2 separate regions of the Homo sapiens genome follow, and region 2 is linked to region 1. The links come from fine-mapping of genetic effects on gene expression. A gene starts in region 1. The other region holds a variant in brackets. All regions are shown on one strand. Distances are from middle to middle. Region 1 holds the start of RCCD1 (RCC1 domain containing 1). Region 2 holds the start of LOC105370970 (a long non-coding RNA gene).

Region 1 (5,368 bases):
GGCCAGAATGGAGGCGGCGGGGATGGGGGGAGCGGGGTGTTCCTGGGAAGGGGTCGAATTGGGGACCAACCCAGAATGTGGGGCTGGCGGCCTGAACGGGGGAGACAAACTGGACTGGCCACAGCGGTGCGGGGAGGCGACTGGGGAGCGCGGCTGGAATAAGTGGGGACGGGGCGGGGAGTGCTCACGGGTCACGAAAGCGGTGTAGCTCCAGCTCGCGCTCACGCGGCAGATGTCGACGCCCGCCCGCAGCGGACTGGGGCTGTGCACCTGGCGCCCGCGTCCGGAGCCCAGCTCCTGCCCGAAGCCGCAGAAACCGAAGCCGAACCAGGCCCCCGGCCGCTCCTCCGCCATGCCCGAGCAGCGCCCTCTGCCGGCCGCCGCCTGGCTGCGGCGGGCCCGGGGGGATTCTTGCGAAGAGCCCGCTAGTGGGACACTGGCAAGTCTCTGGCCTTCCAGGGGCTGGAGCTGCCTTATCTGTAAAATGGAGAAACTATCATTCTCCCGACCACAAAGGCAGAGTCCGTGCCACGAAGGTTCGCTGAGCAGGCGCCCTGACTAATGCCCTACCGGATTTACAAAGATGCTCAAATATTTAGAGGCACTTTCCCTGTCCTCCCTTTTGGCTCAAGCTCAGCGTGCCACAAAGTGGGTACGAAGTGGCCTGTCCTTTAGGCATTGGACTAGGATCCGAGCGCCCCCGACACCCCCACCCCGTCCCGCAGCTTCCCAGCATCTGGCACTTTATCCCATGTAATCTTGGGAACCAAAATGGTCGTTTTACAGAGGAGATTCTGAGACAAAGTAACCCTTACACACTCATACAGCCAGACAGAGAGGGGCAGAGCGCTGAAATCAGGTCCCACCAACTCCACACACAGTGCTCTGCCCCTCTCCCCACAGCGGAACGCAGAAGAGCGTTTGGGAGGCAGTGCCTCTGCAACTCAGCGGGGCCTTGGGACCGCAGCCAATCCACCTGAGTCCAACTGCGTTTCTTCAGTTTACAAAGGGAGGTGGGGGCGGTGCTGTTTGAACCTTCCTCACAGAATTGTAATAAATGCAAATAAAGGGTTTGGTGCGAGTACATGCCATGATAAACACACAGTATTAGCTTACTGAATCCAGTATTTAGTGTTGACAAAAAAATTATCCCTGGACATCTTACTGGTTTTGAGAAACTTATACAGACAGAATTTCAACTGTACCTTATCTAGCCATTTATTCGTCCAGCGAGCATTTACTGAGCGCTCCTCCTCTGCCAGTGAGGACAGCTGTCTGCTCCCAAGGAGCTAACCGTTAAATGGGGAGACAAACAGTCTGGTGGTTACAACAGCAACGCCAACTTCAAGCAGATTCGGCTGGAGCGGGTTTGTTTTTTTTTTTTTTTAATATAATAGAGACAGGGGTCTCGCTATGCTGCCCAGGCTGGTCTCAAATTCCTGGGCTCGAGTGATCCGCCCGCCTCGGCCTCCCAAAGCGTTGGGATTACAGGCGTGAGCCGCTGCACCCGGGCTGAAGCAGAATTGCATGGGCATTTTCAGGCCTCTTAAGTCAGATCCTGGGTCTCTCCTGAGACCCCAGTTCCTGGGCTCCTAACCCCTTCCGTGTCCTCTCCCAACCCAAGGGGGCCTCTGACCTTGATCTTGACCCTATGCCCTCTACCCTCTCGGGCAGGTCCTTCTGGTGGGCAGCCTTGGAGGAAACGCCGAGGCGCAGAGCGGCCGCCTCCGGAAAGGCCTCCCGCCCAGCGGGCGCCGACAGCCACGGGGAGAAAAGGTTTGAAGGGCGCGCGGCGCGAGGCGGCCAATCACCAGCAAGGGCGGTGACGTCGCCGCCCGGGGCGCGGCGGCCGCAGCCCTGTTCAACTCCCCTTGAGGGCCTCTCCGGTCCCGAGGCCTACGCCGGGGCCCTGCGGCCCGGTCTGTGAAATGGGCTGAAACCTCCGAGGGGCGTTGGACCAAGGCCCTGGAGGAAACCGGGGGCGTTGGACCAAGGCAGAGGTTGGGCCAGGTGGTCCCGCCCCTGCAGGAACCCGTGGGGCTGGAGCTCGGATTAGAACCACAGAGAGGACATTCATTAAGACTTGAGCTAAAGGTTTGGCGAGGAGTGACGCCCAAGACGGGCGGACCCCGCCACCCACCTCAGTCCCGGGACCGCGGCAGCTCAAAACCCGACACGCGCCGGACTCATGCCCCAACAGGAAGCAGCTTTTACCTTCCACGGATTGGCTCAGGACCCGTCACGTGCCTCTGTCGAGCCAACGAGCCTCACGCTGGGCTTAGCCCTCCTCGAACGTGCTGGGGTGGTGGGCGGGGCCCAAGCCGCCCTTCAACCAGGCTCAGCTGGCCACCAACCCCAACCCCCGCCCCAGCGCCCTCAGCGGAGGCCACAGAGGACTCCCAATATAAAGACAAACGTACTGAAGGCCCAGCATATGGGAGTCTCTACCCTAAACGACTTATTTCTTGGGATAGTTTAATATTTTTTGAGATAGGGTCTCGCTGTGTCGCCCAGGCGACACTTTGGGAGGCTGCGCTCTGGGCTCACTGCAACCTTCGCCTACCGAGTAGCTGGGATTACAGGTGCATGCCGCCACACTCTGCTCTTTTTTTTTTTTTTTTTTTTTTTTTGGTATTTTTATAGAGAAAGAGTTTTGCTTGTTGCCCAGGCTGGTCTCGAACCCCTGACTTCAAGTGATCCACCTGCCTCAGCCTCCCAAAGCGCTGGGATTACAAGCTTGAGGCACCGCACCTGGTGAGTTTCTTATTGATTAGCTTCCTAGGCTTACCCTTTGTCCCTCCAGTAGGATTAAGAAGCAACTCAGTGGGCCCTGGTTGGGGAATCCATTGGATTCCTTCCATGGAGGTGGGTCTGCCACTGTGAAGCTCCGTTGCACACTCACCCACGCCCAGCTCACACCCATACTCACCCACACTCACCCACTCAGAGACTCCCACTCACAGCAGCCCTCCCTGCCCAAGGACAGGGCACACAGTGGAGTTCTACACACTTTTATTGGAGGGGCAGGCCTGATAGCAGGCTCACAGCTGGTGAGGCTGCTGATGTGTGCGCCCTTCCAGATGCCCCAGGATCCACAGGCTGTGTTGGGATGCACCTTCCCCATTCCCAGCTGACTACAGTAGTACAGAAAAAGGGCCCCTCTGAGTGAGGCTGCAGGCAGTGCTGGCCAAGCAGGGCTGTGTGACTGAACGTGGCCGCTGACTCAGAACAGAGGACATCCTAGGGCAGCAAGCGAGGATGGGCAAGAGTATTGGGCATGCCAGCCACCACCAGCCAAAGCTGCTTCCGTCCTTACTCTCCGTGCCACAATAGGTAGCGTGTGCATGAGCCTTGGGCCCAGGGACAACCCCCTCACTCTCCATCTTGGTTGGGTTGGATAAGCCCATATTCCACTGCTTTGTCCAGGCAGGCTGCAGCAGCCCTTGTGACAGGGCTGTGGTCACCCTTAGCTAGCACTGACAAGATCTCCATCATCTCACTCTCCATCAGGGTGCTGGCAATCTCCCTCGAGGCCTCCACCATGTTCAGCACCACCACAGCACCCCGGTGCTGCAGCTCCTGGTTGGAGCTCAGAAGCAGGGCCTGCAGGATCTCCAGCCAGTGTGTGGTCTGTGAGAAAAACAGGGTAGATATGACCCCTGGGCAACAGGCTCAACCTTGGCAAGGGACACACCCACACACCCTAGGACTGCCCCCTTCAGCTGCTGCTGGGAGTTCCTGGTCCGTCCCTCCTCCCCCACTGAGAAGAGGCACTGACCACTTGGGGAATGCGGCTGCAGAGCGTGGGCCGCATGGAGGTAAGCATGGCCAAGCCCCCGGCAGCTGCCCGCTGTAGCAGCTCATCATCCTCTCCACTGTACAGCACCAGCAGCTTCAGTCGGTCATTGCCCTGGGCTTCGAAGAGGTCCTGCACCTGTGGCCAGATGTGAGGAGTGGACCAAGTCAGTTGGGTGTAAAGCCCAGCCAGGGCACAGGTACCTCTGCATCCCCGCCTGTCATGAGCACCCAGACCAACCCTCACCTCCTTGCTCATGGCCAAGTTACACATGCACTCCGTGGCTGCCCGGCGGATCATCTCATGCTCCTCAAACATGTAGCCTTCTATCATGGGCACAGCCTTCTCCTTCAGGATCTTCTGCCTGCAGGGCCACAGGAGGAAGCAGCAGGGATACGGTTTGGATGTTTTCCCTTCTAACCCTCATGTTGAACTATAATCCCCAATGTTGGAGGTAGGGCCTGGTGGGAGGTGACTGGGTCATGGGATGGGTCCCTCATGGCTTGGTGCTATCCTCGTGATAGTAAGTTCTCGTGAGATCTGGTTATTTAAAAGTGCGTGGCATCTCGGCCGGGCGTGGAGGCTCACGCCTGTAATCCCAGCACTCTGGAAGGCCGAGGCAGGCAGATGACTTGAGGTCAAGAGTTCGAGACCAGCCTGGCCAACATGGTGAAACCTTGTCTCTACTAAAAAGACAAAAAAAAATTAGCTGGGTATGCTGGTGCGCGCCTGTAGTCCCAGCTACTCAGGGAGGCTGAGGCAGGAGAAGCGATTGAACCCAGGAGGTGAAGGTTGCAGTGAGCCAAGATTGCGCCACTGCACTCCAGCCTGGGCAACAGAGGGAGACTCCATTTCAAAAAAAAAAAAAGTGTGTGGCACCTCCCCCGACTGTCTCTTGCTCCTACTTTCACCATGTGATGTGCCTGCTCCTGCTTTGCCTTCTACTATGAGTAAAAGCTCTCTGAGGCCTCCCCAGAAGCTGAGCAAATGCCAATGCCATGCTTACACAGCCTGTAGAGCCAGGAAGCAATTAAATCTCTTTTCTTTATAAATTACCCAGTCTCAGGTATTCCTTTACAGCAATGCAAGAACAGACTAACACCGGCAGCATCATCAGAGTTTCTACATCTGCTCCACCCCTGCACCCACACCCTCATGCAATCAAGTCCTGGGCTGAGGATTTCCCTTGGCAATGTCCAAGGACCCTCTTGCACCAGGTATGAACTACAGTGCTTCTTAGCCTTCTAACCAGGCCTAGGAAATAGCATAGGATTGTGGGAAATGCTCAAAATTAGGATGTAGAAGACCAGGGTGGTCGTGATGGTGAGGCTAACACCTAACATTTGAGGGTTTTTGTTTCTGTGTTTTTTTGAGGCAGGATCTCACTCTGTCACCTAGGCTGGAGTAAAGTGGCATGATCACAGCTCACTGCTGTAGCCTTGACCCCCCCAGGCTCAAGTGATCCTCCTGCCTCAGCCTCTCGAGTAGCTGGGACTACAGGTGCACGCCACCACACCTTGCAAATTTTTTTTCCAACTGTTAAGTTCAGGGGTACATGTGCAGGACGTGCAG
Region 2 (5,368 bases), 55 kb before region 1:
AGGTTCAAGCAATTCTCCTGCCTCAGCTTCCCGAGTAGCTGGGACTACAGATGTGCACCACCGTGCGTGGCTAATTTTTTATATTTTTAAAAGAGGTGGGGTTTTGCCATATTGCCCAAGCTGGTCTCAAATTCCTGAGCTCAGGCAATCTGCCCACCTCTGCCTCCCAGAGTGCTAGGATTACAGGCATGAGCCACTGCGCCTGGCCAAGGACAGATTTGTATTAACAGGGAATAATCCTACAAGTTAAAATAATCCTACAAGCCTCTCTATTACACAGAAAAACAAAATAGTTATTTTTATGAGTGTTCTCCACTTAACACCTTATCTAATCAAATTCTTTGACCTAATTTTATATTAGGAGGCATCTCTCTCTCTTCTTTGAGACTCCTTTGTTAATTATGAAGATTGGCAGTTTTCAGACCTGGCTCTGGAATTCCATTACTTAGCATTAAAAGTTAAAAGCAGGCCTGAAGATTTCAGTTTTCCTGGCAGAAATGAGTGAGGGAGGAATAGGATTCTTCTGTGTAACAGTAAAATAAGGAGCACGTAGCATTGATCTACATCTCACAGAGCTAGTATGAAGATGAAGACAAGTGATTCCTGTAAAACACTAAGAACAATGCCTAAACCATTTTAAGGGCTTACAACATTAGCTGTTAATAATGTCAACTCATTATCAGATGTGAGTGCCCTCAGCATTCTTTCTCATTACTTTAAAATATTCACCCTTTCCCCACTTACCTCAAAGGAGGAAGAGATCGTGGCCTTTTCCCTCCTAAGATGAGCTGTTCCATGCCAGTTCTTGGCCCCATTTCTGCTTTCCTTCTCCATTATCTTGCTTTACCAGGTAGACTTTCTCTTCTGCCTTCACCCATGTCTATGCCTTCTAAACAATGTCTCCCATTTCATCTCTTTTCCCTTTCAGAGCTCCCCCTTCTTTCAGGGCCAGGCTTCTGTGAAGAATGTTCTATTGTCACTGCTTCTGCTTCCTCATCTCCACCTTCATCGTTTCATCTAGTCTCCCTCAGGTCTCCGTTGTCAAATCCACTGGTGTCTATTTAATGTTAATCCTACTTAACTTCCCTGGCATTTGACACTGTTGCCCACCCTTCCTTGCAACTCTCACCTTTCCTGCCTTGACTGTTGCTGTTTTCTCCTGCCCCTGCTTCTCTGAGTATTCTTTCTCAGTCTTCCCTGCCAGGTCCTGTACTCTGGCCCCCTTTCATCTTGTGTTCCCTAGAGTCCTGTCCTTAGCTCTCCTCTGCGTGTTCTTTTCTCTTGGACAGACCATCTACTTTATTTATTTATTTGAGACAGGGCCTCACTCTGTTGCCCAGGCTGGAGTGCAGTGGCACAATCTCAGCTCAGTGCAGCCTTGACCTCCTGGGCTCAAGTGATCCTCCCACCTCAGCCTCCTGAGTAACTGGACTACAGGCACACACCACCATGCCCAGCTAATTTTTGCATTGTTTTGTAGAGATGGGGTGTCACTATGTTGCCCAGACTGGTCTAGAACTTCTGGGCTCAAGCGATTCACCTGCCTCGGCCTTCCAAAGTTCTGGGATTATAGGAGTGAGCCAGTGCACCCAGCCACATCATCCACTTTAAATACAGCATATATGCTACTTAATCCCAAGTCCTTGTCTGTGTCTCCCAAGGTCCCGTGGGCATGTCCTAAACAGAACTCACTCTCCCTTGTACAGATCTTTTCCTCCCATCTGCTCCTCCACAATTTCCAGAGCACTTCATGCCATTGCTCTCATCTCTGTCTGTACAACTTACCTTTTGAAGACAGCTGAACTCCTTCTCCTTTGTAAACCTCTTCCATTCTCTCAGGGAGATAAGAAGCAATTTACTCAAACATAAATTAAATGGATGAGAAAGAACTGAAGTGCTGGGCTGAATGATTCTAATGGTTCTTTCTAGATCTTAAGAGTCTGGGTTCTCTTGTCTTTCACTGGGTTCGGCAATTATTGTCCTCATCAGTGACCACAGAGGAACTCCAGAGAAATGGAGAGAACAGAGAAGAAGGTAGTTACTAATCAATTTCCTTTTCTCTTTCAGTTCTATGCGTGTGAGATGGTGCTTGAGGAAGAGGGAATCTATGGAGGTGAGAGGAGATGAATGTGAGTGGAAAGGGAAAGAGAACATACAGAAGAAAAAACTGTTGTTGTTCTCCAACCCCCCCACCCCACCCCCACCACCAGCTCCTTCTTTTCCTGGTCTTATTCCTGTTAGTGTAGCAGGAGGAGAGGTTCCTGAGAATGGGAATGGGAATAGGACCACGAATTAGAACACTACTGGGGGCTGGGCGCAGTGGCTCATGCCTGTAATCCCAGCACTTTGGGAGGCCGAGGGGGTGGATCACCTGAGGTCAGGAGTTTGAGTCCAGCCTGGGCAACATGGTGAAACCCCATCTCTACTAAAAATACAATAATTAGCTGGGCGTGATGGCGCACGCTTGTAATCCCAGCTACTCGGGAGGCTGAGGCAGAAGAATTGCTTGAACCCGGGAGGCAGAGGTTGCAGTGAGCCGAGATCACGCCATTGCACTCCAGCCTGGGCAACAAGAGTGAGACTCAGAGAAAGGAAGGAAGGAAGAAAGAAAGAGAGAGAGAAAGAAAATAAAAGAAAAGAGAGAAAGAGAGAGAGGGAGGGAGGGAAAAGAAAGGATAAGAAAAGAACACTCCTGGGGTAGTATGAAAGGAACACCAGGGCTTAGAGTTGGAAATGACCAGCCACTCTTTTCTCACCTTCCAAGGCTCCCACAGGAAAAACTGGGCCTCCCCTCTGTGTATTCCTCCGCTATTCTCCACACAACCCAAACCTGATCACAGCCCTCCCTGCTGGAAATAGCAGCGGCTCAATATAAAGCCCAGAATCCCCAACATGCCTCCTATCCCTTGCACAGTCTGGCCCCTCCTGTCCCATTAGCCTCATCGTGTGCTGCTTCCTTCTCCTGACTCGCCACCCTCCAGCCAGAGAGACTTTACCCATGCTTTTCCAGGTACCCAGAACGTTCTCCACCCTATAGCTTTTTGCCTTCCCGAGTCTTACCCAAATTCTAAGCTTGATTTTCTCTTCTTGAGGGAAGTCTTTCCTATACCCCCAGTTGTGGTTACATCCCTTTAATATATGTGCTCACAGCTTGCTGTTTGACCTCTTTGGAGCACAACCGTGATTTAATAGTTTGTGTCATAATTTGTCTGGTGTGTCTCCCTCACTAGACTGTAAGCTCCAGAAGGTTGGGAGCATGTCCATTTT[G/A]CTCACTGCTGTATCTCTGGTGTTCATACAGTCCTACATGTAGGCAGCTTTCAGTAAATATATGCTGAATAATGAATGAGTGAGCTGGGCGTGGTGGCTCACACCTGTAATCCCAGCACTTTGAGAGGCCAAGGCAGGCAGATCACCAGAGGTCAGAAGTTTGAGACAAGCCTGGCCAACATGGCAAAACCCCGTCTCTGCCAAAAATACAAAAATTAGCTGGGCATGGTGGCGTGCACCTGTAATCCCAGCTACTTGGGAGGCTGAGGCAGGAGAATTGCTTGAACCCAGGAGGCGGAGGTTGCAGTGAGCCGAGACTGCACCATTGCACTCCAGCCTGGATGAAAATTGCTAAACTCCATCTCTAAATAAATAAATAAATAATGAATGAATGAATGTTTTCTCGGCACTTTTGGTCAGCCCTCTAGTAAAAACCCACCACTTATCACATTGTATTACAGGCTGCTGTGGACACATCTCCTTTCCTTATCAGACTGTGAGCTCCTTAAGGGCAGGGACTGTGTCTTATTCTTCTTTGAGCCTCCATTGCTTAATGCAGTACTGGCATGTGGCAGGCACTCATATATTTGTTGCACGCACTCAAATATTTGTGGCGGACCTTCCCTCTTAACGTGGAGCTAAGTACCTTCTGCAGGGAGGCTGATGCTCTCTGTCCCCACAGATGTGAGCTGTGATGAATGGGCCTTCTCTTTGCTGCCTCTTGATGTGGATCTGCTGAGCATGGAACTACCAGAATTTTTCAGGGATTACTTTCTGGTAAATGCAGAGGCCCTTGTGTCTTGGCATCAGGGGATGGGGACAAATGTGGGATGCAGAGGGCTAGAAATACCAATATAACCTTTGTCCAACGCAAGTAATTTATCACAAGTGATAGTGATGTGGTGATTGAGTGCTACAGATTGGTCTCTGTGGGACTTCCTGTGGAGCCAATGAAAACCTTTCAAGCATCCCCCAGGCCCTGCCACCCTGCTCCAGGGCTTCTAGGGCTAGCCACTTTCCAGGTGGTCCTACTGGGTTGATTCATATCTTTGTGGCTTGTGTGGTCCCTGCAGGAAGGAGATCAGCGTTGGATCAACACTGTAGCTCAGGCCTTACACCTTCTCAGCACTCTCTATGGACCCTTTCCAAACTGCTATGGAATTGGCAGGTGCGCCAAGGTAAGAGCACTAGCAGTACTGTTGTCCCAGCAGACGCTGTTTTCCCTGTTCTGTACCCTCCTGGGGTTATCCAAGGGCACCTGTGATATGAGGTGTATTCTTTACTTTGCTTTCATTGTTCTGGAATAGATCCTCAGAGAGGAGAACTTGTGTGGCTAACAGAGAAGCAAAAGCCAGGATCTCCTGGGTAGCATTCCTAAATCTCTTTTTATTTTGGGGACAGAGTAACACATCTTCTCATCAGTAGGAAGAGTGTTGGGGAAAGATAGACACAGACGGGAGTAGATAGGGCCATATTGTGAATAATTAGCTCCTGTCTCGGGGACAAGAGGAAGTATCACGTGGAAAGGGCTGACTTCTGTAGGTATGGGGCTGCAGTAGGGACCTGGACACAAGACTGAGAATGTCTTGGGCCCTGGCAGATGGCATATGAATTGTGGAGGAACCTGGAGGAGGAGGAGGATGGCGAAACCAAGGGCCGAAGGCCAGAGATTGGACATATCTTTCTCTTGGACAGAGGTAAATTATGCCCAGCGTTCCTGTCATCTTTCAGCCCTAGAAGACACGGGAATATGGAAGGCGTGGTGGCAAAGTTAAAATCCTAAAGTTAGGGCTGTGAATCCCAGCTTTGAGGAGCGTGGGTCCTTGGCCCTATGGAAAGTATCAAAGCTGCCCTTGGACATGCTGTGTAGAAGGCTGGGTCAGGGAGAACCTTCATGGTCAGGGATCTCTGTTTCAGATGTGGACTTTGTGACAGCACTTTGCTCCCAAGTGGTTTATGAGGGCCTAGTAGATGACACCTTCCGCATCAAGTGTGGTAAGTGCTATGGTCCTCTGCATCTTGGCAAGATGGACGGGTCATCAGCCTTGGCACCTCCCACGTGGGGCAGGGTTTGTGGGAGAGACCCAGACCCTGAATGAAC

Evidence for each region. PIP is the estimated chance that this variant, and not a neighbour inherited with it, causes the effect.
Region 2: its variant is the best candidate, but not a certain one, in a credible set for the expression of RCCD1 in lung (TOPMed, PIP 0.75).

The regions. Positions count from the first base shown.
Region 1 is chr15:90,951,721-90,957,088 of GRCh38, reverse strand. It overlaps RCCD1 (RCC1 domain containing 1), which reads right to left and starts at 2,205. Exons shown (of 8, transcript NM_001017919.2): 1 at 2,141-2,205; 2 at 189-477. The coding sequence starts at 354. It overlaps UNC45A (unc-45 myosin chaperone A), which reads right to left. Exons shown (of 20, transcript NM_018671.5): 18 at 4,043-4,160; 19 at 3,779-3,934; 20 at 2,996-3,630. The coding sequence ends at 3,373. RCCD1-AS1 (RCCD1 and UNC45A antisense RNA 1) reads left to right here and starts at 2,596. Exons shown (of 2, transcript NR_170325.1): 1 at 2,596-2,754; 2 at 3,884-4,851. RefSeq lists silencers at 79-128, 249-478, 1,709-1,838 and enhancers at 2,059-2,168, 1,969-2,523, 3,348-3,848.
Region 2 is chr15:91,006,546-91,011,913 of GRCh38, reverse strand. VPS33B (VPS33B late endosome and lysosome associated) reads left to right here. Exons shown (of 23, transcript NM_018668.5): 6 at 2,068-2,113; 7 at 3,950-4,044; 8 at 4,341-4,445; 9 at 4,868-4,964; 10 at 5,185-5,262. LOC105370970 (a long non-coding RNA gene) reads right to left here and starts at 1,360. Exons shown (of 2, transcript XR_932611.3): 1 at 745-1,360. The variant G/A (reference allele first, on the strand shown) is at 3,268.